Linked DNA regions of Homo sapiens: all the other regions are linked to region 3. Evidence: fine-mapped expression QTL. A gene starts in region 3. Each other region holds a variant in brackets. All regions are shown on one strand. Distances are from middle to middle. Region 1 overlaps APBA2 (amyloid beta precursor protein binding family A member 2). Region 2 overlaps APBA2 (amyloid beta precursor protein binding family A member 2). Region 3 holds the start of APBA2 (amyloid beta precursor protein binding family A member 2). Region 4 overlaps APBA2 (amyloid beta precursor protein binding family A member 2). Region 5 overlaps APBA2 (amyloid beta precursor protein binding family A member 2). Region 6 overlaps APBA2 (amyloid beta precursor protein binding family A member 2).

Region 1 (5,381 bases), 89 kb after region 3:
AATAAACATTATATTCTACATGGCATTTAATTTGGAGAACTCCCAAGTATACGATCAGCCCCTGACATCTGCAGACTGAGGCACATGTGTTTATTTTGAGAGGAAGTTTGTAGCAATCCAGAATCATGCAAACTCCATTGAGGTCCGGACTCCTGTGACCCTGTGTATTCCTCTGTTTGGATAGCAGATTAGGAATAACCAGTGATATCACAATAGGTAAAGACAAAGAAACAGAACTTGGATTTCTTCAATTCTGTCATTCTATGTGAACACTAGAGGTTTTTATTGGTGTGTAAAATTTGAAGAGTAAGAGCACAGATGATGAGATTGGATATTTTTGTTTGATTGGTGCAACTTGTAGTTGACACATGAAATATTTTACTGAATATGAGCTGTACCATTAGGACTGAAATTCATCTTTTAAAATTGTCCATGGTTTTTAAAATTACAGATCCAGTTAAGGAAATAGTGATTATTACTGGTTATTATGTGATAATTACTGAAAACACTGTTGTCACATAGAGGATGAAGGTGTTAAAAATTAGCCACATTATGTATGCCACATAGCAGGGGACAGGCTTCATCCAATGAAAAGATGATGTGGGAAACTTTGGCGAAGGCACTGATAGTATTTTTACACTTAAACAAGTATTTTAAAATGTTTAAAAAAAATTGTATATGTATGACCGAAAGAAAGGTAGGGATAAGTATGGAGGAATGGCTATAAATGTTATATATTCTGACAAAATAGAAATAATGAATAAAAATAATAGTTGGAGTAGGAAGAGCAAAAGAGGAACAGAGAATCAGCTCATTGATTGCCCTGCAGGTAGGAAAGTGGTAACATTGTTTGGTATACAAGAATGACCACTGAAACAAAAATATAGACCTTAAATACCCAAAGAAATGCAAAAACAAAACAAAACAACTTTTAAAGAAGCAAACAAACCATATAGTGAAATACACACGGTCAATATAACACTAAAGAATAGAACTGAGACCAAACCTAGCAGCCGCATCAGTAAATTAGAGTGGATTTAACCCATTTATTAAAAGGCAAGACTGATTTTCAGATTGGTTCACATAGTGGCACCCAACTCTATGCTGTATAAAGAAGTCATATCCAAAACACAGTGATCCAGGAAGGCTGAAAATGACAGGAGGGTGTATAGCAATGAAGAGAGAAAAAGAGCTTGGGAGTTTTAATCCTGACTGCAGCCAAGCTAGTATCAGGCCAAAAGCATTAATGGAAACAAAGAGGGCCGCTGTCAATGCTAAAGGCTGCAATTTGCAGAGAAGATACACTAGGTGTGGTTATGTCTGCTTCACATAACATCACCAGAACCTCTACGATGCGGAAACCACAGGGGCGGTGGGGAGACATGAGGGACACGCAGTTCCAGGACATTGTGACTGCCTTGCTCAGCCTGAGACATGTGAAGGGGACCAAAACATACGCCTCCAAATGTACCAGACTTTGTGCTGTGATAATAGGGAATACAACTTTGTTTCGAGACTACTTGGAACACTTAGGAAAGTTGACATATATTAGCTTACAAAGACAACCTCAATGAGTTCCGTAACAGAAATAATACAAACAACATTCTGTGCTCACAATGCAATAAAACTAAAAATTAATCATAAGATTAAAAACCAAAAAGGCCCTTCAATTTGAAGAGTTACAAGATTAAACTCTATTAAATAAGTTTTTAGGTGAAAGGAAATACACAAACCAAGTGCATAATTTTTGAATTTGACGATAATTAAAATATATCACTCTGTGGAATACACATAAAGCTGTGGTTATAACCTCAGAAATGAAACCAAACGAATTAATGGATTTATCATCTAACTAAAAATGATAGATAAAAATAGCCAAATAAACTTAGAGTAGAATGACAAAAAATAAGAGTAAGATTGGAAATTCATGAGTTTTAGGAATGAGAAAAAAATGAAACTGATAAATACACAAAATACTACATCCTAGAAAAAGAATCAAGTGGACAAACCTCTGTCTAAGCTAATCATGAAGGGGAGAGAGAGAGACCCCAAACAACACAGAATAAGAAATGACATTAACAGAACAGAGCATATTTAAAAAAATCATTAAAAGCTTACTTTGTATAGTGCTTTGCAAGTAAGTGTGAAGACCTGGATAGAAAGGGAACTTCTTTAGGAAAATATAATTTATTCAGATTGACCCCAGTAGACACAGAAAGTTTTAAAAAAAAATTCCTACTGGAAAAAAATTCAAATCTATATTTTCACAGGAGAATTCTATCAAATCTTCAAAGAACAGATATCTCAATGCTACTTAAATTATTCTAGAACATAGAAAAAGAAACCTTAAGATTATTCAATGAGAAAACCACACACCAATCTCACTTAGGAATATTGATGTAAAATGCCTAAGTAAAACAGTATTAGAGAGAACCCTTTAAAAATGGTTTTGAGACAACTGGATAGCCATTTGGAAAAAGATAAAATTTTGTCGATATCTTTCATCATCTACAAGCATACATTTCAAATGTCTCTAAATAGGTAGTTACCAGAAAAACTACCACAAGAAAACATGGGTAAATTTTAAAATAACCTGTGGGTAGGGAAAATTATGATTCAAAATCCAAAAGCAATGTAAAAAAGATTGAGAAATTTGGTTGCATTAGGAAAAAAACAAAACAAAACTGCTTTCGCATGATGGGGGAGGGACACCATAAGCAAAGTGAAAAAGCCAGGTAATAAACCAGTAGAAAATATTTGCATCTTATATCACAAAGCTAATTCCTTCAAAATATAGATTATAACAAGATACCATTTCTCATGGGCCATATTGGCAGAGAGGAAAAAACTCAAAACAAAACAATA[C/G]AAGTTTGATGGCGCCCTCTATTGGCGAGGCTGTGGAGCAGCCATTCAGATTGCTCCACCCCTGGAGGAAACAGGATGCCTTGGGACTTGGTGCACCTGCATAGACCCTGACTCAGCCATGCCTCCTTCCTGAATTTACCTGGAAGACAATACTCCAAATCCAAACATGCTCATGGCATATGGAGATCTTAAATTAATAGGTCCTCTTTTATGTCTTTCAATAAAGTAACAGATATGTTTCTATAGAGGTCTTCCATTTTTACATTAAATTGATTCCCAGGTATGAAATTTTGGCTACTGTCCCAGTGGCAGCCCTCTGGAAATGACCTTTGTTGAGTTTGTGTTTTGACCTGGTATCCAGCAACCTTGCTTAACAGTCTGAAGAGCAGCTTGGGGCTTTTCTCTATGGACAGTATGTCTCCTGCATGTAATGACAGTTGGCTTTCATTCATCCATTGCAATCTTCATCCTTTAATTTCTTTTTGTTTTCTTACTTCTGTGGTTGGGAGTGACAGAACAGTGTTAAGCAGAAGCAGTTATACTGCAAATTCTTGTCTTATTCCTTCTTGTAGGGCCATCTCTAATGGTCCACCATGAGGTGTGGAGTTTGCTGTGGACTTGTGGTAGATCCTCACTTTGTTAAGGAAGTCTCCTTCTGGTCCTAATTTGCTAGGAGTTTTTTCTCCCTTTAATTGTGAATGCATGTTGAACTTTATGAAATGGTTTTTGGGCATCAATTGAGATGATCTGTTAATGTGATGAATTATGTGATTGCGACAATAGCTTTTCTAATATTACACCAAGTTGACATGCCTGGGATAAACCTGTATTTCATCATGATATGTCTCTTAAAAATTGCTGGGTTCACTTGGCTAATACTTTATTTAGGATGTTTTTTCACCTGTTTATAAATGAGTTTGGCCTATAATTTACCTTTCTTATTCTGCCTTTCATTGGTTTTAGTGTGGAGATTATATTAGACCCATAACATTCAGCATCTCATCCTTTTCTCTTTTGGAGAGCAATTAATATAAGACTGAGGTGATATGTTCCTCAATGGTATTGTTAAAACTTACCTGTGACACCTTCTGGTTCCAGTGCATTACTAGTGGCCAGATTTCAAGTGACTAATTAAATTTCCTTAACATTTAAAGTCTATTCACAATGAGGAAATAAACCTTACCTCATCAGTTGGCTTCCTTCAACACTACCATTTTTCTTCTTTCTTGTGAGTATGTGAGCCTTAGTTCAGGCTGCTATAACAAAAATATCATAGATTAGTTTAGAGAACACACATTCATTCCTCACAGTTCTGAAGGCTGGGAAGTCTAACGTCAAGGGGCTGGTGATTCCTGGTGAGGGCCCTCTGCTTGGTTTGCAGATGGCTGCCTTCTTCCTGTGCTCTCACATCGGGGAGAGAGAGAGCATCTCTCTCGTGACTTTTCTTCTCATTCCCATTCATGAGGGCCTAATTTCTTCCCAAAGGCCCCACATTATAATAGCATCACATTAAGGATTAGGCTTCAACCTCTGAATTTGGGAGGAGCACATTCAGCCCTTAGCAGAACCCCACCCCCAAGATTTTCCTAAGTGAATGAATAGTCATCCCCCAGCCTTGTTCCTGGCCTCTAACAGCATTTTAGAAGGAGGTTTCTCATGACTGGGGTTGGCTGAGATGGGAATTTCCTGATTCCATTGGCTGTGATTCAGCCCCATGCCATCCTGCCAGTAAGATGAACACATGAGTCATGCTCAGCTGCTAGGGTGCCTGGTGCTGCTTCCAGTTCCTCTGGGTGACCTCTGTCCAGCACATAAACCTCCTGAAGCATTCCGAATTTGCGGAAAGTGAGCCACCCTCCCAATGTGTACATGTCTGGGCCTACCTTCCTGCTCTCGTATGTGACAGGCACACAGCCTTTCCAGAAGGTACCTCATTGCCTAGTACAGAAATGCTGAGGTTCTCACAGGAGTGAGAACCCTACTGACTGGCTGTTGTGTCTCTCCCATACAGTCGGGTGTGGAGCAGTTGGACCCACATACCTATCTGCGCCCATCCTCAGTTGAAAGGTAGTGAACAGCTTGGGCTGTGGACTCAGGCAGGCCTCGGTTCAAATCCCAGCTCTGCCACTCAGGGGCTGTGTGTGCAGATAGGCTGCATCTATTGTCCAAAGCCAAACATGGGGAAAACCAAACAATCTCTCAAAGGGGTGTGGTGAGGGCTTAGGCAAAAGACTGGTGTACCGTGGCTCGGATGGATTAGTTTCCATTCTCCCTCTCTCTGTTTCCAGCTTTCCTCTCACTACAAGATGAGGGCCCTGTCCCTCTTGGGCGTTTGCCAAAGGAAGGTCTGGACACCCAGCAGCTCATTCATGTCGCTTCCCAGTTTGCTGTTACCATGTTGCAGTGCAGAAGCCATAAGCCGCATGATCCGTGAGCCTGGCCCTGCAACTTGGCTCCTCCACACAGCAGCGTTTGCCTTCATTGTCACAGATGACTATGAGAAGATGCCCTTGGTC
Region 2 (5,381 bases), 80 kb after region 3:
ATTTTCCAGAGTGGCTGTACCATTTTATATTCCCATTAGCAATGTATGGATGATTCAGTTTCTCCACATCCTTGCCAGCATTTGGTGTTATCACTGTTTTTTATTTTAGCTATTCTCATAGGTGTGTAGTGATATCTAGTTGTGGTTTAGATTGCATTTTTCTGATGCCTAATAATGTTGGGGATCTTTTCATATGATTATTTGCCATCTGTGTATCTTCACGGGTGAAATATCTGTTCATCACTTTTGCTCATTTTTTTTTTTTTTTTGAGACGAAGTCTTGCTCTTGTCTTCCAGGCTGTAGTGCAGTGGCACGAACTTGGCTCACTGCAACCTCCGCCTCCTAGATTCAAGTGATTCTCCTGCCTCAGCCTCCCGAGTAGCTGGGATTACAGGCGCCTGCCACCACGCCTGGCTAATTTTTGTATTTTTAGTAGAGATGGGGTTTCACCATGTTGGCCAGGCTGGTCTTGAACTCCTGACCTCAGGTGATCAGCCCACCTCGGCCTCCGAAAGTGCTGGGATTACAGGCATGAGCCACCGCACCTGGCCCACTTTTGCTCATTTTCTAATTAGATTTTTTTTTTAATTGTTGAGTTTTAAGGGCTGTTTATATATTCTAGATACAAGTCCTTTGTTAGGTACGTGATTTGCAAATAATTTCTCCCAGAGTATAATTTTTTTTTCTGTTATCTTAACTTGACCCTTGACAGAATGAAAGTTTTTAATTTTGAGGAGGTCAAAGTTTTATCAAATTTTTTCCTTTTATGGATATTGTGTTTGGTGTATGTCTAGGAACTCTTTGCCTAATCATTAAGGTCCCAAAGCTCTTTCCTTTGATTTTTTTTTTCTACATGTCTTATAGTTTTATATTTAAGTCCTTGATTCATTTTGCGTTAGTTTTTGTATAAGGTATGAAATTTATGTCAAATTTCTTTTTTCTTTTTTTGCCTATAGATGTGCAAATACTCCAGCGCCATTAATTGAAAAGGCTGTCCCTCCTTCATGGAATTACTTTTGCTCCTTGTGACAAATCAGTTGGGCATATTTGTAGGGATCATTTTTCCTGGGCTCTCTACTCCATTCCATTTGATCTCTGTGTCTCTCCCTTTGCCTATATCACACTGTCTTGATTACTATATCTCTGTAGGAAGCCTTAATATCAGGCAGGGTGATTTCCCCAATTTTATTCTCCTTTTTCAAAGTTATTTGGCTATTCTCAGGCTTTTCTCTTTCTAATAAATTTTAGAATAAGTTTGTTTGCATCTACAAAATACCTTACAAAGTTTGACAGGACTTTTGTTAAGCCTGTCAGTCAATTTAGGCAGAATCGACCTTTTAACTATGTTGAGCGTTCCAGTCCATGAGTATGTCTCTTCAGTATTTAGGTCTTTGATTTCCTTCCTTGTCATTTTGTAATTTTTATTTTATATAGATCCTGTACATATTTTGTTAGATATATTCATAAGTATCTTCTTGTTATCTTTAGAGCAACTTTAAATGGTGTTGCATTTAACAGTCTTGATTTCCACTTCTTTGTTATTAGTGTATAGACATGCAATCAGTTTTTGAATGTTGATCTTGTACCCTGAAACCTTACTGAACTATATGTTTTCCTCTCAGCACTGTCTGAGCTGCATCCTACCAACTTGGTATGTCGTGTTGTCATTTTAGTGCAGTTCTATATAGTTTAAAATTTCCCTTGAGATTTCCCCTTTGACCTATGGATTAGTTAGAAGTGTGTTGGTTAATTTCCAAGTATTTGGAGATTTTCCTGTAGTTTTTTTGTCATTGATTTCTAGTTGGAGTCCATTTTGGTCAACATATTCTGCATGATTTTAATTTTTTTGAATTTATTAAGGCTTTTTTTTGTGACCCAGGATATGGTCTATCTGAGTGTATGTTCCATGGACAATTGAAAAGAATGTGTATTCTGCAGTTTTTGGGTTGAATTTTCTATAAATGTCAATTTGATCTTTTTGTTGGATGGTGTTGCACACTTCTGTATCTTTGCTGATCTTCTGTCCAGTAGTTGTGTCAGTTGCTCAGAGTGGGTACTGACATCCCCAAATATTATTGTGAATTTGTCGATTTTTCTCTTGGCAAGATTTGTTTTTGCTGTATGTGTTTTGTGGTCTGGGGGGTACGCATTTAGAATTTCTGTATGTTCTTGGTAGGCTGGGCATTTTATTATTATGTAATATTATTCCTTGTCTTTATTTAGTTTCTTTACTCTGAAGTCTGCCTGGATATTAATATAGCCACTTTTGCTTTCTCATGATTAGTGTTGGCATGACATGTCTTTTCCCATCCTTTACTTTCAGTCTACCCATGTTGTTATGTTTGAAATGAGTTTCTTGTAGGTAGCTTGTAGGTTATTTTTTAAATCCATTCTGCCAATGTCTGTTATTTGATGTAGTTAGACCATTTATATTTAAAATGATTATTGACTTGCTAGGGTTTAAGTCTGCATTTTATGATTTTTTTCCTTCTCTTTCTCATTCCTCTGTTTCTTTTTCCTTGCCTTCCTATGGTGACAAACATTTTTTAGAGTCCCACATTTCCTTATTTATACTGTGTTTGAATGTACGGCTTTGGATAGTGTTCTTTATGATTGCTGTAAATATTATGTCAGCCTACTGGTGTCAGAGTTTTACCACTTTGGACCCTTTACCCTCACTACTTTTTAAATATAATTGTCTTAAGTATTTCCTCCGTATCCACTGAGTACCTTATCGTATGACATAATAACTTTTGCTTCAACTTAAAGTATGATTAAAGAACCTCATGAGGTGAAGGACAGTCTAGTCTTCTTCTGTTAGTCTCTTTTTCTGTTTGAAGACATTTCTTTAGCCCTTCTTTAAAGGTTGGTCTGCTAGTAATAAATTCTTTAGCTTCTCTTCTCCTGAGAATATCTTAATTTCTCCTTCATTTCTTTTTTTTGATAGCAAATTTATTGAGTCATAATTCACATACCATGTAACTCATACCTTTAAACTGTACAATTCAGTGGTTTTTAGTGTATTCACAGAGTTTTGAATCATAACCACAATCTAATGTAATAAAATTGTAAGTCTGGCTTTTTGCATGTGATAGAGGGGAGAAGGAAAAGCAGTCTATATCATCTTGCTCTGGAACTAGAAGTTGATAGTCTTTTCAAGTGTTTTATAAATTTCAGGTTCCTCTCTCCATCCCTTTATTTTTATTTATTTATTTATTTTGAGATGGAGTCTCGCTCTGTCACCTAGGCTGGAGTGCAGTGGCACGATCTTGGCCCACTGCAAGCTCCGCCTCCCGGGTTCACACCATTCTCCTGCCTCAGCCTCCCAAGTAGCTGGGACTACAGACACCTGCCACCA[C/T]GCCCGGCTAATTTTTTGTATTTTTAGTAGAGATGGGGTTTCACCGTGTTAGCCAGGATGGTCTCGATCTCCTAACCTCATGATCCACCCGCCTCGGCCTCCCAAAGTGCTAGGATTATAGGTGTGAGCCTCCGCGCCCGGCCCCTTTCTTTATTTTTAAAATGTATTTTAATTTTTAGTTCTTAATTGTGGCAAGAGATACATACAAATGTATCATCTTAAGCATTGTTTAGGTGTACAGGTCAGTGACGTTAAGGACATTGACATTGTTGTCCAGCTATCACCACCACTCATCTCCAGAATGATTTCATCTTCCCAAAATTTAACCTCTGCACTCATTAAGCAGTAATTGTCCATTCCCCTCTTTTCACACCCCCTGGCAACCACCATTCTACTTTCTGGCTGTGAATTTGACTCTTCCAGGTACCTCACGTAAGTGGAATCCTACAATATTTTTGTGCGTGACTGACTTCTTTCCCTTAGCATAGTGTTCTCGCAACGTTGTAGTAAGTGTCAGAATTCCCTTGCCTGTGAAGGCTGAATAATACTCCACCGTATGTGTAGACCACATTTTGTTTATCCATTCATCCATGATGGACACTTGGGTTGTTTCCACGTTTTGGGGACTGTGAATAATGTTGCTATGAGCATGAGTGTGCAAATAATCTCTTGGAGATAGACCCTGCTTTTCATTCTTTTGGGTGTATACTCAGAAGTGGGATTGCTGAATGATGTGGTAATTTATGTTTTTAATTTTGGGGGGAACTGCTATACTATCTGTCCCTGTCTTTTCCTTACAAACACGTGTGGAAGACTTTGAGGCATTTGACCTGTGGAACATCTCCCTTCTTATTTTGGATGGGTGCACTCCTGGTGAAGTTCAGCGTGTCCCTTTGTCCTCTCTCTCCTGCACATTGGCAGCTGGATCCAGTACCTTTGCTGGACTTGGTTCCGTCTCTTTCGCAGGATTAGAGGAAGTGCTCTATGTCTGTTCACCCATCTTTTTGTGAGCAGGCAGCTGTTGATGCTCAATGCCCCTGTTTTGGGTAAAATTGTGTCTCCCCAAAATTCATTTGTTGAAGTCTTAAGCTCCAGCATCTCAGAACCTGCCCTTATTTGGAGAAATGGTCTTTACAGAGCTTATCAAAGCAAAATGAGGTCATTAGGGCAGGCCCTAATCCAGCATGCCCAGCGTACTTCCAAGAAGAGGAAATGCGGAAGCAGACACGTGCAGAGGGAGGATGGGAAGATGTGGTGACTCCATATAAACATAAACACGGCTGTCTCTTGCCCTTCATTCTTGAACGCTTTGCTGGACAGGAAATCCTTGAGTGTCTTAAATAGGCTACTCTTTTTTTTTCTGGAGGTAATCATGGTTGTCAAAAAGTCTTAAGGGTCAGCCACAGTGGCTCACCCCTGTAATGCCAGCACTCTCGGAAGTCAAGGCAGGAGGATCATCGGAGCTCAGGAGTTAGAGATCAGTCTGCGCAACATAGGGAGACCCTGTCTACAAAAACCTTACCTTTCATTTCTTTTTCTTTCTTTCTTTCTTTCTTTCTTTCTTTCTTTCTTTCTTTCTTTCTTTCTTTTTTTTATTTTTTATTTTTGAGACAGTCTCTCTCTGCCGGCCAGGCTGGATCCAGTGGCACAATCTCGGCTCACTGCAACCTCCGTCTCGCGGGCTCAAGCGATTCTCCTGCCTCAGCCTCACAAGTAGCTGGGATTACATGCATGCACCACCAAGCCTGGCTAATTTTTGTGTTTTTAGTAGAGATGGGGTTTCACCTATAGGCCAGGCTGGTCTCGAACTCCTGACCTCAGGTAATCTGCCCACCTTGGCCTCCCAAAGTGCTGGGATTACAGGTGTGAGCCACTGCACCGGGCCTTAACCTTTCATTTCAAATAAAAAGGAGATAACCTGGAATTCTGTGTGGGCTCTCAGTGTAAAGATAGAAGGACACACAGAGTGTTTTGAAACATGCCCCTCCCTGATCAGCAGGTGTCCTGCTGTGTCACATGTGA
Region 3 (5,381 bases):
TGTTTGTCCTAATGATTCTTCAAAAATTCTCTGAATACTGGCAGTTGGCTCAAGCTCACCAGATTTAGGAGTCCTGAGTGAGGCTGGGGGCAGGCCTGTACCTTTATTTTTAAATTTATTTAATTTATTTCATTTTTTAAAATGATAGGGTCTTGTTCTGTCACCAAGGCTGGAGTGCAGTGGCACGATCACAACTCACTGCAGTCTTGAACTCCTGGGCTCAAGCGAGCCTCCTGCTTCAGCTTCCCAAAGTATTGGGATTATAGGTGGGAGCCACTGTTCTTGGCCCTAGGCCTATACCTTTCATCTTGTGGACTGAGGACTTCAGCCACTATCACTCCCGGGTGCTGCGATGGGGTTTAATTTCCAGTGACTGGCCCAGAGCCTGCTCATGGGAAGATCTCAAGGGAGGCTGTTGAAGGAACAGCATGCAACTTACCGGCCCACACACGTTCACACAGATGGGGGTGGGGGTTTGAGGAGGTGGGGGGTGTTGTGTGGATCAGCTTCAGGCACAGGTGTCTGGTTTCCTATGGGATGTGACCACATAACAGTAAGGCAAGAAGATGACTGCATTTATCTTCTCAGAATCACTTCTTCTTAATTGTTGCTTCCCACTATTGGCATTGGTGAAAGGCTGGGCCACAGGAGGCTGGATGAACTTTGTGTTAGCCAGGTAAGCAGAATGTCTATGCAGGTGGAAAGTAGACAGTGAAGGTGTGCTCATCTGAGTACGGAGGGGCATAGGTCAGGAACCTCGTTGGCCTGCCCTGGCCTTTGCCCCTTTGTTTGGCCCTGTGGCTACAAAGCTCCCCTACCAGGAGCAGCCCCCACTGGCGGCTCTGGCCCTGGAAACCTGTGAATGTTTGGTGGGGGCAGGGTGTGGAGAGGCCAAGTCCACAGTGTATCTAACCCTAGTCCATCTCAGGATTCGGCTTCCCCCAGCCCCTTCTCCTTAGGGTCTCAGCTCGGGCCCTCAGGGCAGCAGGAAGATGCGCTGTCCTCACTCCCAAGTCCCCCTGCCCTTCTGTGCCTTCTGACCTGGGCAGAACTTCCCATGCCACAGCTTCGCCTAATCCAGCCACAGGAGAAAAGAAAACGAGGGCAAATCACCACGATTTGGGGGGAGGGAGGCCCCTGAGCCCCCGCTCTGCCCAGACAAGGCATCCTGTGCATCTCCCATGGCTCATCACATCTGCCTGGGACTCAGTGAAAGGGCCAGAGGGCCAAAGGTGACACCGGAGTCTCCAGCACGACCTTCGAGGGCCTCCAGGGCATTTCTCGCGCTGTAGGGGCGGAAGACTGGCTCCCCTGGGGATGCATGTGAGTGTCTAGGAGTGTACGCTCCCCAGGGCCCCGCGGAGGTCAGGGTTCTCTCCATTTAGGACAGCAAGGAGAGAAAGCCCTGGAGTGAGGCCCTGGGGCTGGGGGCTAAAGCAGCACAGAGTATCAGAAACGGGGTGCTGGGATGGTTACCGGGGACCGCCAGGGAAGACTTGGGAGTCCAGCATGCGCCTAGGGGAGCTGCGGTGGGGAGGCAGCAGGGGGCCTCCTCTGCCGGATGGGGCCTTCGGAGGCCGCGATCCCCGAGAGTTCTTCGCTCGAGGGTTCTTCGCTCTAGGGTCCCCCATTACAGCTGCGCGGGGCCGAGCAAGCAGGGCGCGGCGGCCGGGGCAAGGTGCGGAGCCTCGCGTTCACCGGCTCTACCTGCGGAGCCTCGCGTTCACTGGCTCTACCTGCGGGACCAGACCCCTGCAGCTCCCCAGCCAGCACGGCCGGGGCACGCCCGGGAATCTGTGTGCTCCCCAGGGCCCGGGGCGTTCGGGGCGCCGCGCCTTCCAGCGCCTGGGTCCCAGCCCCGATCCCGGAGACCGGCCCGGGGGGACCCGGGGTCCCGAGTGCACCCTCCTGCCCTGCAGACTGTCCCAGCGCCGGGGCCAGGGGGCGCAGGACCTCGCGCACGCCCGGCACGGACGCATCTTTGTCTTCCCTCTCTTCACGGCGCGCGATCTAGCCGGGAATCGTTTTCCGGCCCCAGTGTGCCCGGCGCGGGTGAGGCGGAAGCGGCCGGGGCGGGGGCGCAGGCCCGGCAGCCGCAGGCCGGTGCGGGATGCGCCCCGCAGCCGCGCCGCGTGCGCCCGGCAGAGGCGGCCCTGCGTGCCGTACGCTGCGTCCGGGGCGCGCCCGCCGCTATTCGGGAAGCTATTCAGCTTCCCGGGCTCATTAGCAGTCGCGGTGTGCGGCTCGGCGCGGGCTCACAAAGAGCTCGGCCTCGCGGACTGAGCCGGCGGCAGCGGGGCGGGGACGGCGGCGTACCCGGGCAGCCCAGCGCCCTGGCCAGGTAAGCTGGGGAACCTGGGCTGCCTGACTTGCCGGCGGCGGCAGCCTGGGGCCGCCCGGGGCGCCGCGAGGACCCGGACGCGTGGGGGGCGGCGCGGAGGTTGCGGCCCGAGCGCTCCAGAGCGCTGCCCTCCCGACTCAGCGTGGCTGCGGGGCGGCCGCCGCTGGGATATGGGGGTACAGCCCGGCGGCCCCACTCCTCTCTGACCGGCCGCTTCCCCCTCCCACGACGGGTGGGCGGGCGGGGCGGGGACCAGGCGGCGGCTCTCGCATCCCGCGCGGGGGGCACCGCGGCAAGGGGCCACCCGGCGCGGACAAGAGGCGCTGTGTGGCGGGGCTGTCCGCTCGACTCCTGCCGGGCTGGCCGGGCTGCTTGGCACCGGCATCAAGTCCCCGTGCCGGGCGGCAACTACTGAGTTTGGGGTCGCCTCTGGGTTCGCTGCCCCCAGAGAACCCAAGCCCAGATCTTCGCCCCCTTCCCTTTCCCTTTATAATAAGGCCCAGAGGGGAAAACTTATCAATTCAAAACCCCACACCCCGTTGCTCCTGGGCTGCAGGTGCCCGGTTGGGGGCACGGCGCGGACCTGCCCCTCGGCCTGGCCCCTTCCCCATGGCAGGCACTGCCTGGCAAGGCTGCTGGCGGGAGATCTGGCTGCAGATGGTGAAGGAGAACATCGAGGCCCCCGGTCCCCAAGCAGGGCGCCATGGGCCGGGCAGCGGGCCTCGGTGTGCCCAGGCGGGGAGGGGGCGAACTTCCTTTCTCCGACGCCTGCCGAGGACCGCCGTGGAGAGCAGAGCCTTAGAGGGGCCTGCTAGTCTTAACTTCGTATTTACTGGCAGAAGGAAGGCTTAATTTTTCAGATCTATTCAGATACGACCTGGCAGGCACCAGACATAAATCTGTGGTTGAGTGCAGTCAGCTCCTAAATGGGCATGTGGAGGGTGAGGCACCCCGAACTCGGCATCTTGCGTCTGGCACTGTTTTTGGGCTAAACTGCCTCTGGCCTCTTCAACCTCCTGTGCCTCTTTCTGTTTTTGTTTTTGTTTTATTTTTCTGTTTTCCTTCCTCTTTGAGAAAGGACAGTGATTTTAGAAATAATGACCCGAGAGCTTTGCAGGTTGAAGTGGGACGAGTTTTCCTAAGGTGCAGGTTGGCAGGTGCCAGGAGCCTGCAGGTGGCTTTTTCTCAGGCCTCTGGGTCAGGGTCCCTCCAATGAGGTGAGGCAGGGGTTTCTCCTGTGTGTCGCCACTACGCAGGGGACAGGATCTGGGTTTCCCAGTCCAGGGCGTCCAGGATGCCCTGCCCTCTGTGCTGATTCCTGGGTGACCGTGGGGGCTGCTTCCCCCTGCAGCCTGGGCTGGAGAGGGTCTCCTGAGCTTAGGATCTGCCAGGCAGGAGGGCCAGGGTGACACGGACCTGGAACGCTGGGGCTCCAGGCAATGTCCAGGGCGTGAGTGGGTAAAGCTGGAGCTTGTGGCTGTGTGCCGGCAGCCTTCCCTCGGTGGGCTCTAGCAGCACTGTCAGGGGGGCCCTTGGAGTGGGCTCCATGGCTGGGCTGGGACTGGGTGATGGCATTAGCGATGGGGCACCGAGTCTTCCCTCTTATTTATTAGGAAGTGTGGTCTGTGCCCCTCCCTACTGCCGGTCTCCTGGGCTCCTGGGATGGGAGGAGCTGCAGGCTGAGTCCCACGGGGTGTGAGTGTGTGTGAGCAGGAGAGTTGGGTGGGCGCTGGAAGGAGGTGAAACTGGTGACCGTCAGCTCCTCATTCTCTTCCACCTTGCATGTTTTCTCTGACACCCTAGACTCAAGTTGTGGCCTGCTAGTTAACTTGTTTACAAAACCTTTTTAAGTAGTTCTAACCTCTTTTTTTCAACAAAATGTTAGTTTTACAGGCATAATTGGTGGGGATGGATTGTGAAATGGAGGTGCATAAATACCTAGTTTGCCAACTGAGCTAAGAAATACTGGATAAAAATAAGAGATAATTGTAAAAGACACTGATCACACCCCTGGAAGCTGAGAGGGGTGATAAGACACCTTGATTTTTCCTAGACAAAACTGAGGAAGTCAGAGGAAAAACAGTTGATGGTGAGGTTGGCATCAGGCTGGGCTTTGTTTGGATTGGGCGGCGGTGGCTGTGGTGAGGGCTGTTGGAGTGGGGAGAGTGGGGGTTGAGCCTGGCTTCAGAGACCCCCTCGAGGCCTCAGCTCCTCTCCGGCGCTCCTGGCTGTCCTCTGCCACGCATACCTGCCCCGGTGACTCAACAGGTGTGGGCCTCAGGTGACACCATGGTCCGAAGTCGTGGAGAAACCTTTACTGTCCAGGGGAGGAGAGGACTGGCGGTCGGTGGGGATCGAGACCCAGCACACATCACTGGGTGGCTCGAATGTCTTCGGCAGAGATCACATGCCCTGCCTTGCAGCCTGGTCCTTAGAGAATGGGGAGAGTGGAGAGAGCTCTGGGCCTGGGTGGCGGGCGGTCCTGGCTGTATCACTCACAGGCTGCGTGCCCTCCCCATGCAGTCTCAGTTCCTCACCCTTGCCAGGTGGCTGTGAGGACTGGGAACGTGGAGGCACAGGTAGGATGTAAGGTAGCCACTGACCACCAGGCAGGCCTCCCCGATGTAGGTCAAGTTTGAGATGGTTGCTCACCAGGAGGCAGCCTGTGTGCCCGGTGGGGGCTGGGGGTGAAGTTTGAGAGGGTTGCTCACCAGGAGGCAGCCTGTGTGCCCAGCGGGGGCTGGGGGTGCTCTTTGTTCCCTTGGGTGGTGGTTGGCCCGAGTGCCCACAGGGAGGCTTCTCTGGCTCCTTCGTTTCCCAGAGTTCCTCCCCAACCCCCTGCCGCCCACCGCCTGGGTTGGGTCCAGCTCGTGTCTCAGAGCAGCCTGCTGGCACAGGCTGAGTCAGCTGTCGTGGGCACCGTCTTTTCTCGCCTCCCCTGAAGCCAATCTTCCCCTCTCTCCCTGTCCAGACACACAAGGGAGCCCTGGGAGGTAGGTGACCTCAAGATCATGCAGCCAGGCTCACTCTGTGGAACCCT
Region 4 (5,381 bases), 66 kb after region 3:
GTATTGCCCAGACTGTTCTCGAACTCCTGGGCTCAAGTGATCCTCATGCCTCCACCTCCCAAAGTGCTGGGATTTCAGGCGTGAGTTACCACACCCGGCCTCTTGTTGTTGTTAGTAAACTTTTAATTCTAGAACAGCTTTAAAGTTATAAAAAAGTTGCAAAGACTGCAGAGAATTCCCATGCTTGCTTCCTCCAGTCTTCTCTCTCGTTAACATCTTACATCACACGGTGCATTTGGCATAACTGAGGAACCAACGTGGGTCCATTGCTATGAACTAAACTCTGCAGTTTATTCCAATTTCCTTAGTTTTTGCTTAATGTTTTTTTTCTGTCCCAGGAGCCTGTCCAGGCCACTACGTTACCTATAGTCCTTGCGTCTCCTTAGCCTCCTCTGGTCTGTGACAGTTTTTCAGCTTTCCTTGTTTTTAATGACCTTGATAGTTTTCAAGAGTACAGGTCTTTGTGAATATCCTTCGATTTGGGTTTATCTGCTGTTCTTCTCATGGTTAGACTGGAGTTATGGGTTTGGGGGAGGAAAACCACAGAAGCGAAGCACCATTTTCAACATACATCAATGTTGCATGATATCAATATGACTCATAACTATCGATGTTGACCCCGATCAGCTGGCTGAGGTAGCATGTGCCAGTTGCTCACTGTAAGATTACCCCACCTTCAGCGGGGTGCGGTGGCTCATGCCTGTAATCCCAGCACTTTGGGAGGCCGAGTGGGTGGATCATGAGGTCAGGAGATCGAGACCATCTTGGCTAACATGGTGAAACCCCGTCTCTATTAAAAATACAAAAAATTAGCCAGGCGTGGTGGTGGGCACCTGTAGTCCCAGCTACTTGGGAGACTGAGGCAGGAGAATGGCGTGAACCCAGGAGGCAGAGCTTGCAGTGAGCTGAGATCACGCCACTGCACTCCACCCTAGGCGACAGAGTGAGATTCTGTCTCAAAAAAAAAAAAAGAAAGCAAAAAAAGATTACCCCACCTTCTTTCCATAGTCCTCCCTGGAAGGAGGTCGATGTGCAGAGCCCATGCTTAAGGAATGTGGAGTTACACTCCACTCCTTCATGGGGGGTGGGGATATCTGTATAAATTATTTGGAATATTTCTGTATGGGGGACTTATCTATTCTCCCCCATTTATTTATTCAAACATTTACATCAATATGGATTTGTGGATATATAATTTATACCTTGCTTTATAATCCAGTGCTGTGTTATTTATTTTATTGCTCAAACTGTCCCAGCTTTGACTATATGAAGCTCTTTCAGGTGGCATCCCATGTCCCTTAGAGAGATCCCTACCTTTTTGTTTTTTTGAGTACAGTCAGTTGGCCATATCCGTGAGTTCTGCATCTGTGGATTCAACCAACCTTAGATGGGAAATATCTGGGAGAAAAATAGATGGTTGCATCTCTACTGAACAGACTTTTTGTCTTGTCATCATTCCTTAAACAATACAGTATAACAACGATTTATATAGCATTTACATTGTACTAGGTATTATAAATAATCTAGAAAGGATTTAAAATATATTGAAGAATGTGCATAGGTTATATGCAGATTCTACACCATTTTATAGAAGGGACTTGAGCATTGAGGATTATGGTATCTACAGGGGGGCCTAGATAACCAATCCCTTACAGATACCCAAAGAAAACTGTACCTCTTTCTGGCACAAGATACTCAGGCTCATCTTGAATTTTTCCTACCCAGTCCTGGACTCAGCTATTTCTGCAAGGATCCCTGCCTTATTTTATTGAAGAATGGTATCTAGAAACCAAGGTCTGGAGACAGGGTTCTTCTTGTCACCGAGGTACATTGCTTCCAGGCCCTCTCAGCAGACAGAGCTAGGAAATATGCATGTATGCTAATCTGTGTATACATATGTATCTCCCATAGTTTTTTTTTATTTTTTTATTTTTTGAGACAAAGCCTTGCTCTGTTGCCAGGCTGGAGTGCAGTGGCACGATCTCCACTCACTGCAACCTCCGCCTCCCAAATTCAAGCAACTTTCCCGCCTCAGCCTCCCTAGTAGCTGGGACTACAGGCGTGTGCCACCACACCCAGCTAATTTTTGTACTTTTAGTAGACAGAGTTTCACCATGTTGGCCAGGATGGTCTTGATCTCTTGACCTCATGATCCATCCGCCTTGGCCTCCCAAAGTG[C/T]TGGGATTACAGGCGTGAGCCCACTGCACTCAGCCTTTTTTTTTTTTTTTTTTTTTTTTTTAAGACAGAGTCTCCCTCTGTTGCTCAAGCTGGAGTGAATGGCACAATCTTGTCTCACTGTAATCTCCACCTCATGGGTTCAAGGGATTCTCTTGCCTCAGCCTCCTGAGTAGCTGGGATTATAGGCATGCACCACCACGCCTGGCTAATTTTTGTGTCCCATAGCTTTTTTTTGAATGCACGACCCCATCTGGCGGCGAAGCCCTGGACCTAGCCTTCTGATCACTCATGGGAACCATGACCACGTGTCACATAGTAGAAAGGAAAACTTGGACAACTTACTGTGTAGACAGGAGCAGCAACAACAAAAAAGACTTGGAAGGCTTAAAGAATATTTTCCAAGTATACACAAATACAGAGAATAATAAGAGGAATGACTTTGAGAGCCTGAGGCAGGAGGATTGCTTGAGCCCAGGAGTTCAAGAACAGTCTGGGTAGCATAGAGTGACCTTGTCTCTACAAAAAAATTAAAAAAAAAAGCCAGGTGTGGTGACGCGCACCAGTGGTCCCACCTCCGTGGGAGGCAGAGGCAAGAGGATCACTTGAGCCTGGGAAGTTGAGGCTGCAGTGAGCCATGATTATACCACTGCATTCCATCCTGGCTAACAGACCAAGACTCTGTTTAAGAAAAAAGGAGTATCTGGGGTACCTGCTATCCAGTTTAAGACATGTACAAATATGATTCAGCCTTCCATGAGCATGCCTCCCCAGCCACCCCTGTGAAACCCAGTAAATTGAATTTACTGTTTGTTTTTTGGAGGCATGTTTTATTTTTACACTGCATGTATGCCTAAATGATATATCCCATTGTTATGATATTTTCAAACTTTGTAGAAATGATACCTTACTGTGTTCCTACAACTTGAATTTTCATTAACTGAGACATTTTACATGTATTTATCTTCTTAGCAATCCTGAGAAAAGCAAGAGTCACTATCTCCATTGTATAGATAGAGAAACTGATAATGTAGAGCAATGATGTGATTTTTGCTAATTTCAAGCAGCTAATGGAGATCGACTCACATTTGTACCTTCAGAGCCCTAGTCCATGCTCTTTGTATGACATAAATGTCAAGATTCATCAGGAAAAGGAAGAACAGGCGGGTCTTGTTGGTTACTCTGTGACCCTGTTGCTTCCCTGGGACCTGGAAGTCCTGGTGTCTCCCTTAGCCTGGAATCCCAGTCTCCATCTGGGTTTTGCAGGCTCCAGGAGTTTTGATGAAATGAGGACCCATATGGCTGGTTGAGACTCCCACCCCCTCATCACTCCCTACCAGCGTTTGTGCAGAATCCTCCTCTCCTCCCGAGTTGGAAATAATGTATAGTTGGCTCAAAAGTCAGCCCCTCCTTATTTTAGCACCAGATGCTGCCTCTCAGCTTCACGCTGCCCTCCAGCAGCATTGCCTGTGGTCCATGGGATCTTGGCCTTCACACTCAGCATTGAAACAGCTGCCTTCCGCTCCCATCATAGGAAAGAGAACAGAAGTCTCTTGCTCCCACTCCCCCCGCCCCACCCCCTGCTGCTGGCCTATTTCTGTGCTTTGTTTTGCTGTAGAACTTCTGGAAAGAGTTGTCTGCAGTGGCTTTCTCCATTTCCTCCCTTCCCGTTCTCTCTTATACCCGCTCCAGTCGGACTTTTGCCCCTTCCACAGACACCTCTCCTGACACTTTTGACCCCATCACTTAGAGATCAAGATCTGTAAGACTCCAAGTCTCCAGATCCAGTGGTCAGCTCTCGGTCCCTTCCCATGTGACTGACCAGCAGTGTTTGCCACAGTCGTCCCCTCTAGGAAACACCTTCTTCCCTTGGCTTGTGGGGCACTCTGTGCTTGGGATTTTCTTCCTGCTTCACTGGACTTTGCTCAGTCCCCTTACTGACCCGTGAGTGTCAGAGTGTCCCTGCGGTCAGTCCATGCCCCTCTTCTCCGCTCGGTCCACACTCCCACCATGGTTGACCTCATTCCGACTTGTGGCACAAGGAGCTCACATTTATCTTTTAGCTCTGATTTCTCTTCTGACCTCCAGACTGTACACCCTGTTGCTCACCCAGCGCTTTCCCTTAGAGTTCTAATTGACGTCCCCACACAACAGGCACCAAGCTGTCCCTGGCCATCTCAACCCCAATCTCCACATCTCAGTAAATGGCAGCTCCATGCTTCCGGACACCTAGACCATAGACTTGGAGCCAACCTTGACTCCTGTCTCTCTTAAACCCCACATGGAATCTGTTCCGTAAGCTGCCCATGGTCACACCGGCACCGCTGCCGTGCGATGAGAGCCTGTCATCTCCTTGCTAGATTGCTGTGCCAGTTTCCTGATGGTTCCTGTTTCCACACTGACTGCATACCTTCCCACCCAAGTCTGTGTCTGCTCAGCAGCTGGTTTATTGCATACAAACTTAAATGAGAATGCTCCTCCGACCAGAGCTCTCCGTTCCCTGGCCATCCCATTAAGAGTAAATGCTGGAAGCCCCTCCTCAACTGACTTTATTTCTTAAAACTCTATCCTGCAAAATCCTGCCTGGCTAATAACTTTATCACCTTCTTCGTGTTGGTTCCAACGTTCCCTTCTGCAGGTGGCTTCTGCGGACTTTGGTACTGGCCCACATCCCTGAGCTGGTAACCCCCCACCATGCACAGGCACCCCCACATTAATTCTGTAGCTTATTTGTTTATTGTTGTCTGTGCCACTCCAGACAGGAAGCCTGTGGGGGTTGGGGGCTTGGTCTGCCTTCTTCAGCCCTGGGCTCACAGTCCTGACATCTTCTTGAAGACGGCGCTCACGGTCAGGCTGCAGCAAATTCACAGTTGACATCTAGGAGTGAGGGCCTCCTGCCATGCTGCACTCTGGCCTCTCACCTGCCTCCTGCTAGTCCTGGGCACACCTGGAGGACAATCAGGGAATTTCTTTCCCCATCTGCTTTGGCATCCTCCAAACCTGGGAACCTTTCTAACACCTGACTGCTTGGTGACCATGTGTGTGCTCTGTGGATTTCTGTCCAGGAGGGTCCCTCACTCTGGCCCTCAGGGCCATGTGCATGTGGACACCGACTGGTAGGGTTGGTTTCCTATGCAGAGAGCAGGGCCAGAGGCATAGCCGGCCCACCCCCAGCCCCATTGCTCACGGTTCACCCAGTCCCCTGG
Region 5 (5,381 bases), 45 kb after region 3:
GATTTTCAGTTTGTGCACCATTTTCTAGTCATGAGGATGGGAGTGATGACTTCCAAGTTCTTTACGTGTTGGAGCGGAAACTCCAATCCTTCCCCTGCTTTGATTTTCCTGTTACCCTAACCGGGAATCATGTTTGTTATTTGATGGTTTACTCAGTTGTCATCTGTCTTCCTAATTAGGACATAAGCTCCAGGGAACTGGAGTGTCAGTGTTCCCTTGCGTCCTTGCACCCACAAGACAGCCTGGCACATTCTGAATGAATACACCGAAAGGGATAAATAACGAGGCCAAGCCACCTGGCTATGGGTGGCTGCTAATCCGTAGGATTTCTCGTGCCTTGTGGTTTCAGTGAATTTGCGACACACATGAGTGATGCTGCCAATGGGAGGCTCCCAGATGTCCTCAACAAATAGAGGAGTGACCACTCAGATCCAAGGGTGTAGCACTTCCCGCCTATCACTGGGAGCTGATGGGCTGTCTTTAGCATGGCACTTTGTATGGTGCTGGCGCCCAGGCTTCCCTGGGGCAACAGCGTTGGCCCAGGCGACACACAAGAAGAAGGGGGTTTTTCTGTGGTCACTTCCGCGTTGCTAGTTGTTTTGCCCTCTTACTGTGGCTAAACCTTCTGTCCATACCTGTCCCCCATTCTCAGTATTTGGCTTTTCGGATTGCAGTAGTGGGACTTGGGTGCACATTGCAATAAACCAATTTGCCCCCATTATCCATGTCTTGTTGATGGTCCCACTGCCAGCATCAGTTCTTATGAACAGATTTCTAAACCATCACCATCTGTTCTGCTCTTAATTTCAAGTGTAAAAAGTATTACTTTCCTAATTCCGTCAAGGGGAGGGAGAATATGTATTCCTAAAGACCACAGTTCTTGTATGAGGAAGTGTAGATCTGCCACCCACCTACTAAAGGAAAGGTTGCTTCTGCCCATCCTCAAAGCTGTTGAGCAGTTATTTACCTAGAGGGTAAAACTGGCCCATTCGCATCTCTATAAAAACAGGTAGGAAAAGGTGGAAGGAGCTGAGTTGGGGAGGTGGAAGGGGGGCAAAAGCTATGTCTCCCGTCCCTCCCTGACAGTGCAGCCCCCCAACCCTCCAGCCCCCGCCAGTATAGGTGGGAATGGGCTGGCAGGGCTGCATTGTGGTGGTCCCTGCTGCTGCTAGGGCTGTTTCCAGAAGAAGGCCCAGTTTCAGGCTTGACTTCCCCTCAGAAGTCATAAGGACCATAAGGTCCATCTGGGTGGGCGCTGAGCTCTCCACGATGGGAGCAGGATAGACATGAGCATCTTCACCCTCGTGGTCCCTCTGAGCCTGCCCTGGGGGTGAGCTCTTTTTCTGCTCAAATGAACATTCCAGGCAGGCCCTGGAGCTTTCTGTCGTTCTAAGGCAATAGAAGGTTCTTTGGTTACTTTCAGTCCCAGGAACATTGTTGGTCAGTCATGAAAAGGAGTAATTATAGACTCTTTGGAGCTTCTCCCACCCGGCTGGAGCCTGACCTGTCTTGGAGCCGGCTGGGGAGGGAGGGCTGTGTGTCTCCTTCTTTCTTTCTTTGCCTCTGTTTTTGCTGGCCAGGGAGTGTTCCGAGGGATGGAGTGTCTGGGGAGAGGGCATTCTCTCCACAAGTGGGCTGGGTGGCACTTCTGGGGTCCAGCAGATGTTTCACTTGGACTTCCTGTCTCCAGTGACCCTCGGGTAGGTTTCTTAGAGATGACCCTGCTGGGAACTTGCAGCTCTTCCCTGCGACCTGTGGGAGGCCTTGCTGGGCTGATGCCCTTGACTGCTCTCCCTATCCTCCACCATGCCCCTCGGGAGTGCTCCTGGGCTGTTCCTTCAAGGCGGCCCCAGGCTGGCCCCACACTGGTGGGAGCAGCAGGCAGCTCCTCCTTGGGCAGCTCCTCCTCTTCCCCTGTGAGGCAGCTCTGGTCATGGCCTCCTGCCTCTGGATTCTCAGGAAACTCGGGTGCCGCGTCCGCAGACATTGGGGACTCGGTACAGCTATCCTAGGGGTCTGCTAGAAGCCCTGTTTGGGAATCATGGTGAAGCCACCTCCCCAGCCCCCTCCATGAGGCACAGCCCTTCACGGAAAGTCCCTGCTCCTCTTCTGGTACCCCGTAGGCCAGAAACCATGCTGGGGTGGGGAGCTGGGAGCATCTGTTGATGTGGGATGCAGGCGTGCTTGTCACCTCTCCTGGCCCTCAGGGCAGCAGGACAGCTTACATGAACATCTCATCCCGCTGCTGGTGGCCTCTGGTGAGAGACTACTCCAGTCGGTCCCCCTGTAGCTCCTGGATCTTAGCGGGGGCCTGGGAATGGGAGGCCACAAGGAGGTTCCAGAGCTAACTAAAGCCGCTGAGACTCAGAGGGAGTCTCACGCCACTGCCTCCTGTGCCCCCATCCCCTAGCAAAGTGGGACTGATGAGGGATGACCTTGCGTCCTTCTCCCCTGTTCACTGGGACCTGGTGCTGTTGCCACCGTGGGCCCAAACATCCACTGCCCTTTTAGCAAGGCAGCGCTGCTCCATAGGGTCCAGCCGGGGAAGCATCTGGCTTTGCACAGGTGGAAGATCATGACTATTTCCAGAGTCTGTTGCCAGGCTCCATGTAGTTCAGGAGTTGTTTCTCCCTCTGAGAGTCCAAAGTGGTTGTTTTCC[G/A]GAGTTTGGCAGTACCTAAGGGTTAATTGGGATGTTATTGTCTGCATTTGGCTTAGAGATAGGAAAGTTTTATGTTTATTCAAATTATCAGTAATTTAAAATTACAATTTTAGTCTTAATTGTACGTATTTGGAGATCCCATTTAAGTCTTTGGAAATAATTGCAGAGTAATATTTTGGGAAGTTATATTACAATGCACAGACGTTCAAGTGGAGAAAGGTCCCTGCGTGTGAGCCTTGGCCTGGCAGAGGGGCATCCAGGACAGGATCTACAGCACACAGCCCTCCCAACTGGGTCTGGGCATGGCTGCAGCTGAGTCTAGCCCTCCTTTCTGTGCTGCTGCATCCCAGGGGATACGGCCACACAGGCCACAGTTGCCTAGACCGACCTGGTGTCAGGATCACTGTCTCTGCTTTGGTAAGATGTCCTTGGGAGGGGAAGGGAGCCAGCCAATGAGATGAGGGGTAGGAGGGTGACAGGGTGGAGCAGACCCTCATGCTGGCAGAAGAGAGGTTCACATTCACCAGGGAGCAGGTTTTTCTGAACCCTGGAGAGCTGAGGGGGGCACCTGGAGCACCCCTGCAGTCCACAGCATGGGGTGCTGGCTTCTGTACTGTAGTGCAGTGCCATGAGGTACCCATCCCTTGCAGTGGGGTAGGGTTTAAAACCCAGAAGGCAGCCCTCCCTGGAGCACAGCCCCATGGTGTTTAGAGACCCTCTCCTCTGAGCACATGCAGGATGTGACAATGCAGGTGGGCCTAGTGCTGCAGTCTCAGAGACACCCATGGGCTTCTGCCATGCTTTTTATCCACCAGGGCAGTAAAAGCAACGTCCACAGTGGCTTAGCCTCCTGCAAAGCCTGTGGCAGGACAGCCAGGGTTCCCTGACAGTGGAGATGGTGGACGGCCCCATAGGGGGTTGGTCCCATCTCGCCAGCAGAAGTGACCTGTGTGGCCTTAGTGGTCAGTGCTGCCTATTGTGATAGTGGATTGTTTAAAGCCAGGTCCCATCGTGGCTCCTGAGGGAATGAAAATGAGGGGTTCTTTGCTGTGATCTGATGCTTGTGTTCCACCAAATCCATATTTTGGAATTCTTATCCCCAAAGTGATGGGACCTTTGGGAGGGAGACATTGGAATTCACATTCCCAAGGAGATGGGGCCTTATGGAGGTGTCTTAATCTGTATTCTGCTGCTGAAACAGAATACCACAGATTGGGTAATTTATAATGAACAGAACATTATTTGGCTCAGAGTTCTAGGGGCTGGGAAGTCCAAGGTTGAGGGTTGCATCTGCTGAGGGCCTTCTTGCTGCGTCCTAACATGGTGGAAGGCATCATATAGTGAGCGAGAGAGGGAAGGGGGCCAAACTCATTGTTTTATTAGGAACCTGCTCCTCAGTCACTAACCCACTCTCGCGATAATGGCATTAATACATTCATGAGGGTAGAGCTTTCAGGACCTAATCACCTCTTAAAGGTCTCACTTCTCAACATTGTTGCATCGGGGATTAGGTTTCCAACACATGAACTTTGGGGGGGCACATTCCAACTATAGCAGTGGGTGATCAGGTCCTGATGGTGAAGCCCTCATAATGGGATCAATGCCGTTTTAAAAGAGGCTGCAGAGAGAGCCTCCCGCCCTCCACCATGTGAGGACAGAGTGAGAAGCTGCCGTCTCTGAGCCATCACGCAGGTACTCACCAGGCACGGAATCTGCTGGCTCTCTGGTCTTGGACTTCCCAGCCTCCTGAACTGAGACAAGCCACTTTCTGTCATGTATAATCTACCCAGTTTATGGTATTTTGTGAGAGTACCCTGAATGGAATAAGACTCCCTTCAAACAAATGTCCTGCTCTTTGAAAGAGAGTGTGGGGCTCACAGTCTGCTAGTAAAGACAGTTGTAGGAGCAATGGCAAGCCCACACTGGCTCGGATTTTCAGACCTTATCATTGAGTTAGGAGCGAAGTCCTCGACCTGAGGTTTTATTGGTCCAAAGTCAGGGCCTGCTGGAGCCCGACAGGTTGCGTGCTTGGCCTGTGGAGCAGTTTTCTCCAGAGCACCTCTATCCCCTCTGCCTTGTGCCAGGCCCAGCAGGGACTGAGGGTAGAATAATGACAGGCACAGCTCCTCCCCTCAAAGAGTCCACTATCTGGGGTTTGATGCTGGAGCGCAAGGAGGGGCTGCCCACATGGGCGGAGCAGAGGGCCTGGGGAAGTTCCAGGAAGAAGTGACTGTGTGCCGAGGCTGCAGGAGTAGAGGCAGCCCAGGAGAAAGGGGGGCATGGGCTGGAGGTGGGGGTGGTTCCAGGCAGAGAGAGCAGCTTGCACACGGGAAAACAAGGCATGGAGTGGGCAGCTCCTTCCGCCTGGTCTCTAAACCTGTGAAGAGGGGGCTGGGGAGAAGAGACGGGGGTGGAGGAGAGCAGGACTCACAGGCCAGCCAGCCCTCCACAGCCTTGGGAACAGAGTGAAGAGCTTGGACTGTGTCCTATGTCCTGGGGCCGGTGCCACTGCAGGCTTTGGAGCCAGGAGGGACTCAGTGGAGCTTGCTGTGTATGATTGTGAGTGTGGGGAATGGTTTGGGGTGGGAGGCAGGACAAGCAGCTGTGGACTCCTGTCTGCAGGTGAGTGCCAGGGCTCAGTGTGGGTTCTGATTGGGCTAAGTAGGTGCCCATCTGCCTGGAGTCCAGCTGTCCTTGTGTGGTCTGTAGACCTTGTTGTCAA
Region 6 (5,381 bases), 120 kb after region 3:
AAGAAAACAGGTGCACAACTTCATGACATTGGATTTGGTAGTGACTTCTTGGATGTGACACCAAAGGCACAGGCAGCAACAGGAAAAGATAGGTAAGTTGGACTTCATCTAATATAAAAACTTCCTCAAAGGACACAGTCAGCAGTGAAAAGGCAACCCAAGGAATGGACGGAAATCTTTGTAATTCATACATCTGATAAAGGGTTAATAGCCAGAATGTGTGAAGAATTCTTAGAATTTAACATAAAAAGAAGCCACCTGATTAACAAACGAACAAAGGGCTTGAATAAACATTTCTCCACAGAAGATAGACACATGGCCAGTAAACACAGAAAAACATGCTCAGCATCACAAATCGTTAGAGAATTGCAAGTCGAAATCACAAGATACCACCTCATATCTATTAGGCCGGCTATTACAAAACAAAACAAAACAGAAAATAAGTGTCTGTGAGGATGTGGCAGAATTGGAACCCTTGTGCACTTTAGGTGGGAATGTAAATGGTGCAGCCCGTCGGAAAACAGTATGACAGTTCCTCAAAAAATTGAAAATAGAATTGCCGTGGAATCTAGGCGTGGTTTCACTTCTGGGCATATGCCCAAGGGAAGTAAAAGCAGGGGCTCAAGGAAATATCTGTACATTCATGTTCATGCAGCATGATTCACAATAGTCAAGGGGTGGAAGCAACCCAGGAGTCCATTGGCAGATGAATGGATCAACAAAATGTGGTGTATACATAGAATGGAATATTATTTTGCCTTGAAAAGGAAGGAAATTCTGACACATGCTATAACATGGATGAACCTTGAACCTTGAGGTCATTATGCTAAATGAAGGAAGCCAGATAGAATAGCACAGATCCTGTGTGGTTCCACTGACATGAGGTACTCAGAATAGTCAAATTCATGGAGACAGAAAGTAGAATGGTGGTTGCCAGGGGCTAGAAGGAGAGGGAAGGGGGTTAGTGTTTAATTAGGACAGAGGTTCAGTTTTACAAAGTGAAAAGAGTTCTGGAGATGGATGGTCATGATGGTAGCACAGCAGTGTGAATGTACTTAGTGTCACTAAGCTGTATTCTTAAAAAGGCTTCCAATGGTAAATTTATGTTACGTGTATTTTACCACAATTTTTTTTTCTTACAACGGAAAGGACTCAACACCATATCTAGTAAAACACACACTGAATGTTGTTATTGAAAGCATAGATGGCAGGATCACTTGAGTCCAGGAGTTCGAGACCAGCCTGGGCAACACTGGGAGACTCCCATCTCTACATAGAATTAAAATAACAGATTAGCTAGGTGTCCTAGCTACTCAGGAGGCTGAAGTGGGAGGGTCCTTTGAGCCTGGAAGTTCGAGGCTGCAGTGAGCTGTGATCATATCACTGCATTCCAGCCTAGGTAACAGAGCGAGATCCCATCTCAGAACAACAACAAAAAACAAATAAAAAAATAAAAGCACAGAGCCAGTCACAGGGACACTCCATACATATGAATTCTACCCACAGTCATTCGTGCCCCTGAGTGTCTGCCTTCCCACCATTCTCTGGGAGTTGGTTTCCATTCCCTCACCTCTCCTGTTCTCTCTGACAAAGGTAATTGAAACTATGTTTCTGTTCTTTCAGTATGGCCAGGTGGGAAGCTGTTCTCTAGTGTGAGTTAACCAGGACAGAGGGTGTGTATGTGCAGGGGAGAGAAGCCGGCAGGCTCTTCCTCCCAGATGCTGGACTATGGAATGTGATACTAACATGGGGATCCTCCCCAAGAGCCTTGGATCCCCTAGTGCACCAAAGTATCCTACTGAGAAGGCATCAGAAAATCTGACTCACAGAAGTTAGGGCAGTGTTTACAGTACCATGACAGCAGGCAGAGCTTGGGGTTCAAAGCAGAATCTGAGGAAAGACTCTAAAAAGACGAGCCCCTGCCCAAGATATGGTGCCTTTTCTAGTCTCATAGCACATTGCACCCCCTCCCCTCACTGTAACAATCCACACCCTCAGAACGCGCACCTGGAGTTGTTCATGGAGACTAAAGTGGGAGGAAGCTTTGGACAGTCACCTTTTTGAAGTCTGTTTTGAATTGAACAGTGTGCAAATGATAAGCCACTTATTTTAAAATAAGCTTCTTAATTCAAGTGTAATATAAACAGAAAAGTACAAAAATCCTAAGTGTTTATTACCATGAATATTTTCAAAGTGAACACATCCATGAAACTACCATCCAGACTAGGAAACAAAACATCACCACAACCCAAGAATCTCCCCTAGGGTCCTCTCCCAGCCATAACCCACCCCCGACCACTACCACCACCACCTAAAGGTAATCAGAATCCTAGCACCAAATGTTATTTTTGCAAATGTTTGAATTTTTTTTTAAATAAATGAATTTCTACAATATATACTGTTTTATGTCAGCTTATTTTATGCAACATTATGTTTGTGAGAGTCACTCACAGGTGGTGTGACAGTAGTTCATTGACTCACTGTTACAGAGCATTGTAAAAATACAAATAATTCATCCATTCTATGTTTGATGGACATTTGCATCTTTTCTAGTTTTGGGTCATGATTGCTGCTGGGAACACTGTTACACATTTGTTGTACACATGATTGCATTTCTATTGAGGGTACATCCAGGATTGGAATGGGTAGGTCACAGGGTCTGGGTATGTTTCTATTTTAGTGAACACTGCCAGTCCTTTTTCTGACGTGATTGTACCCAATTACACTCCCACCTGCAAATAGGAGTTTCATTTGCTCCACATCCTTGCTCATAACTGGTGGTGTTAGTCATTTTAATTTGATTTTTAGTGGATGCATGGTGGGATCCTCTGGTATGATTTTCAGTTCACTGAAGACTGTTGAATATCTCTTTCGAATACTTGTCTTGTGCTTTTC[G/A]AAACCTTCTCTTGAAGTTTTTGTGCAAGTTTTTGCTCATTTTTCTGTTGCATTTTCTTTCTTAGTGCTTTGTAGGAGTTCTTTTTTTGTTTTATGAGATGGAGTCTCGCTCTGTCGCCCAGGCTTGAGTGCAGTGGTGCGATCTCAGCTCACTGTAAGCTTCGCCTCGTGGGTTCACGCCCTTCTCCTGCCTCAGCCTCCCAAGTAGGTAGGACTACAGGCGCCCGCCACCAGCCCGGCTAATTTTTTGTATTTTTTAGTAGAGACGGGGTTTCACCGTGTTAGCCAGGATAGTCTCGATCTCCTGACCTCGTGATCCGCCCAACTCGGCCTCCCAAAGTGCTGGGATTACAGGTGCGAGCCACCACACCCGGCCGGGAGTTCTTTATATAGTTAGTACCTGAGACCTTTGCTAGATGTACATATTACAAATATTTTCTCACACTTTCTCACGTTCAGTGGTATCTTTTGATGAGAAGGCCCAGATTATCAATCTTTTCCTTTAAGGTTAATGCTTTTTGTGCCCTGTTTAGGAAATCTATGCATACCTAAGAACATGAAAACAACAGCATATTTATTTTTTCCAGCCATTCTTGTTTTCTAATATATGATTTTAGGGTTATAAATAGCCTATTAAGCCTGCTTTAGCTGTAATCCACTATTTTTAAAAATTGTAGTAAAAAAACACAGCATAAAATTTACCATCTTAACCATTTTTAAGTGTACAGTTCGGTAGTGTTAAGTAAATTCATAATGTTGTGAAGCAGATCTCTAGAACTTTTTCATCTTGCGAATCTGAACATCTATACCCATTAAACAGCAACTTCTCATTCTCCTTGCCCCAGCCTCTGGGAGCCACCATTCTACTTTCCGACTACTCTAGGTACCTCAAGTGGAATCCTACAGTTTCTGTCTTTTTGTGACTGGCTTATTTTGCTTAGTACAGTGTCCTCAAGGTTCATCTGTGCTGGGTTGTGTGATAAGATTTTCTCCCTTTTTAAGGCTGAATAATATTATGTGGTATGAATAGACCACATTTTGTTTATCCATCATCCATCGATAGACATTGGGTTGCTTTTATTCCTTGGCCATGATGAATAGTGCTGCTGTGAACATGGCTGGCTGTCCAGCACCATTTTTGGATACGTTGTATTTTTATTATTAATTAGTTCAAAATCTGTTCACTTTTTAAAATTTCTCCTTTGAAATGTGGGTTATTTTAAAGTAGTTGATTTCCAAATGCCTCCATATTTTCTGGTTATATTTTTGTTATTTATTTCTAGCTTGCTTACCCCGTAGTCAGGAACAGATTATTTACAATGTTAACATTTTGAAATTTGTTTACACTGGCTTTAGACTTGTCCACCATATGATTAATTTTGACAGACTATCCCATGTGCCCTTGTGTGTAGTTCCTCAGTTCAGTACTTTCGATATATTCATGAGGAAAAATGGGTAATTGTGGTGTTCAAATCTTATATTTCCATTCTTATTTTTACTTCTTTGTTATATCATTTACTGAAAGAAGTGTGTTAAATTATCCAGCTGCTCATAATGTCTGTGTCTAATAGACATAAATTTCATAATGTCTAATACTTTAGATTTGTCTTATTATAGTCCTGTCAATTCTCCCTTTATAAATTTTGAGTGCATTTAACTAGATACATATAAATTTAGAATTTATTCCTAGTAGGTTGCCCTTTTTAATTATGAATTCTTTCTTTTCCATAAGAATGCTGCTTTTCGTAAAATCTAGTTTGTCTAATTACCAATATAGGTATATAAACTTTCTTTTTTAACTTACTGCTTTAGAATAGTTTTAGATTCACAGAGATGTTGCGAAGATAGTAGAGAGTTCCCATACATCCTGTACCTACTTTTCCCTGTTGTTAACATCTCACATTAGTATGGTACATTTGTTACAATTAATGAACCAGTGCCAATGCATTATTATTAACTGAAGTCCATACTTCATTCACATTTTCTTAGTTTTTATCAAATGTCCTTTTGCTGTTCCAGGATTCTATTAGGAGACTGCTTTGAGTTCAGTTATTATGTCGCTTTAGGTTCTTTTAGACTGTGACAGTTCCTCTGACTTTCCTTGTTTCTGATGACCTTGACAATTTTGAAGAGTAGTGGTCAGGTATTCTATAGAATATCTTTAAATTTGAGTGTGCTTGGCATTTTTCTCATGGTTCAATAGGGGCTATGGGCTTTGGGGCAGAAGATCCCATCTGAAAAAGTGCCATTCTTATCCTATCAAATCAGGGCTACATAATTTATCACTGCTGATGTTACCCTCAATCGTCTGAGTGTTATGCACCATCTCCATGAGGGAACAGTATCTACACAAATTATTTGCAATTCTGCACAGGGAGATTGGTCTGTTCTCACTCATTTATTTTCTCATTCATTTATTTATATTTGTATGGACTCATGGATATTCATTGTATACTTTGGGCTATAAACCAGTATTGCATTATTAA

Evidence for each region.
Region 1: its variant is fine-mapped to the expression of APBA2 in whole blood (TOPMed, PIP 0.98).
Region 2: its variant is fine-mapped to the expression of APBA2 in whole blood (TOPMed, PIP above 0.99).
Region 4: its variant is fine-mapped to the expression of APBA2 in whole blood (TOPMed, PIP 0.97).
Region 5: its variant is fine-mapped to the expression of APBA2 in whole blood (TOPMed, PIP above 0.99).
Region 6: its variant is fine-mapped to the expression of APBA2 in whole blood (TOPMed, PIP above 0.99).

Annotation. Positions count from the first base shown.
Region 1 is chr15:28,972,983-28,978,363 of GRCh38, forward strand. All of the region lies in intron 2 of APBA2 (amyloid beta precursor protein binding family A member 2), which reads left to right. Among named protein-coding and RNA genes, the nearest start is that of APBA2, 90 kb to the left of the region's middle. The variant C/G (reference allele first, on the strand shown) is at 2,866.
Region 2 is chr15:28,964,236-28,969,616 of GRCh38, forward strand. The region is part of intron 2 of APBA2 (amyloid beta precursor protein binding family A member 2); the gene reads left to right. Among named protein-coding and RNA genes, the nearest start is that of APBA2, 81 kb to the left of the region's middle. The variant C/T (reference allele first, on the strand shown) is at 3,360.
Region 3 is chr15:28,883,938-28,889,318 of GRCh38, forward strand. APBA2 (amyloid beta precursor protein binding family A member 2) reads left to right here and starts at 2,037. Exons shown (of 15, transcript NM_001353788.2): 1 at 2,037-2,341.
Region 4 is chr15:28,949,669-28,955,049 of GRCh38, forward strand. The region is part of intron 2 of APBA2 (amyloid beta precursor protein binding family A member 2); the gene reads left to right. Among named protein-coding and RNA genes, the nearest start is that of APBA2, 66 kb to the left of the region's middle. RefSeq lists enhancers at 4,716-5,217, 5,218-5,381. The variant C/T (reference allele first, on the strand shown) is at 2,179.
Region 5 is chr15:28,929,037-28,934,417 of GRCh38, forward strand. All of the region lies in intron 2 of APBA2 (amyloid beta precursor protein binding family A member 2), which reads left to right. Among named protein-coding and RNA genes, the nearest start is that of APBA2, 46 kb to the left of the region's middle. The variant G/A (reference allele first, on the strand shown) is at 2,660.
Region 6 is chr15:29,007,287-29,012,667 of GRCh38, forward strand. The region is part of intron 3 of APBA2 (amyloid beta precursor protein binding family A member 2); the gene reads left to right. Among named protein-coding and RNA genes, the nearest start is that of APBA2, 120 kb to the left of the region's middle. The variant G/A (reference allele first, on the strand shown) is at 2,896.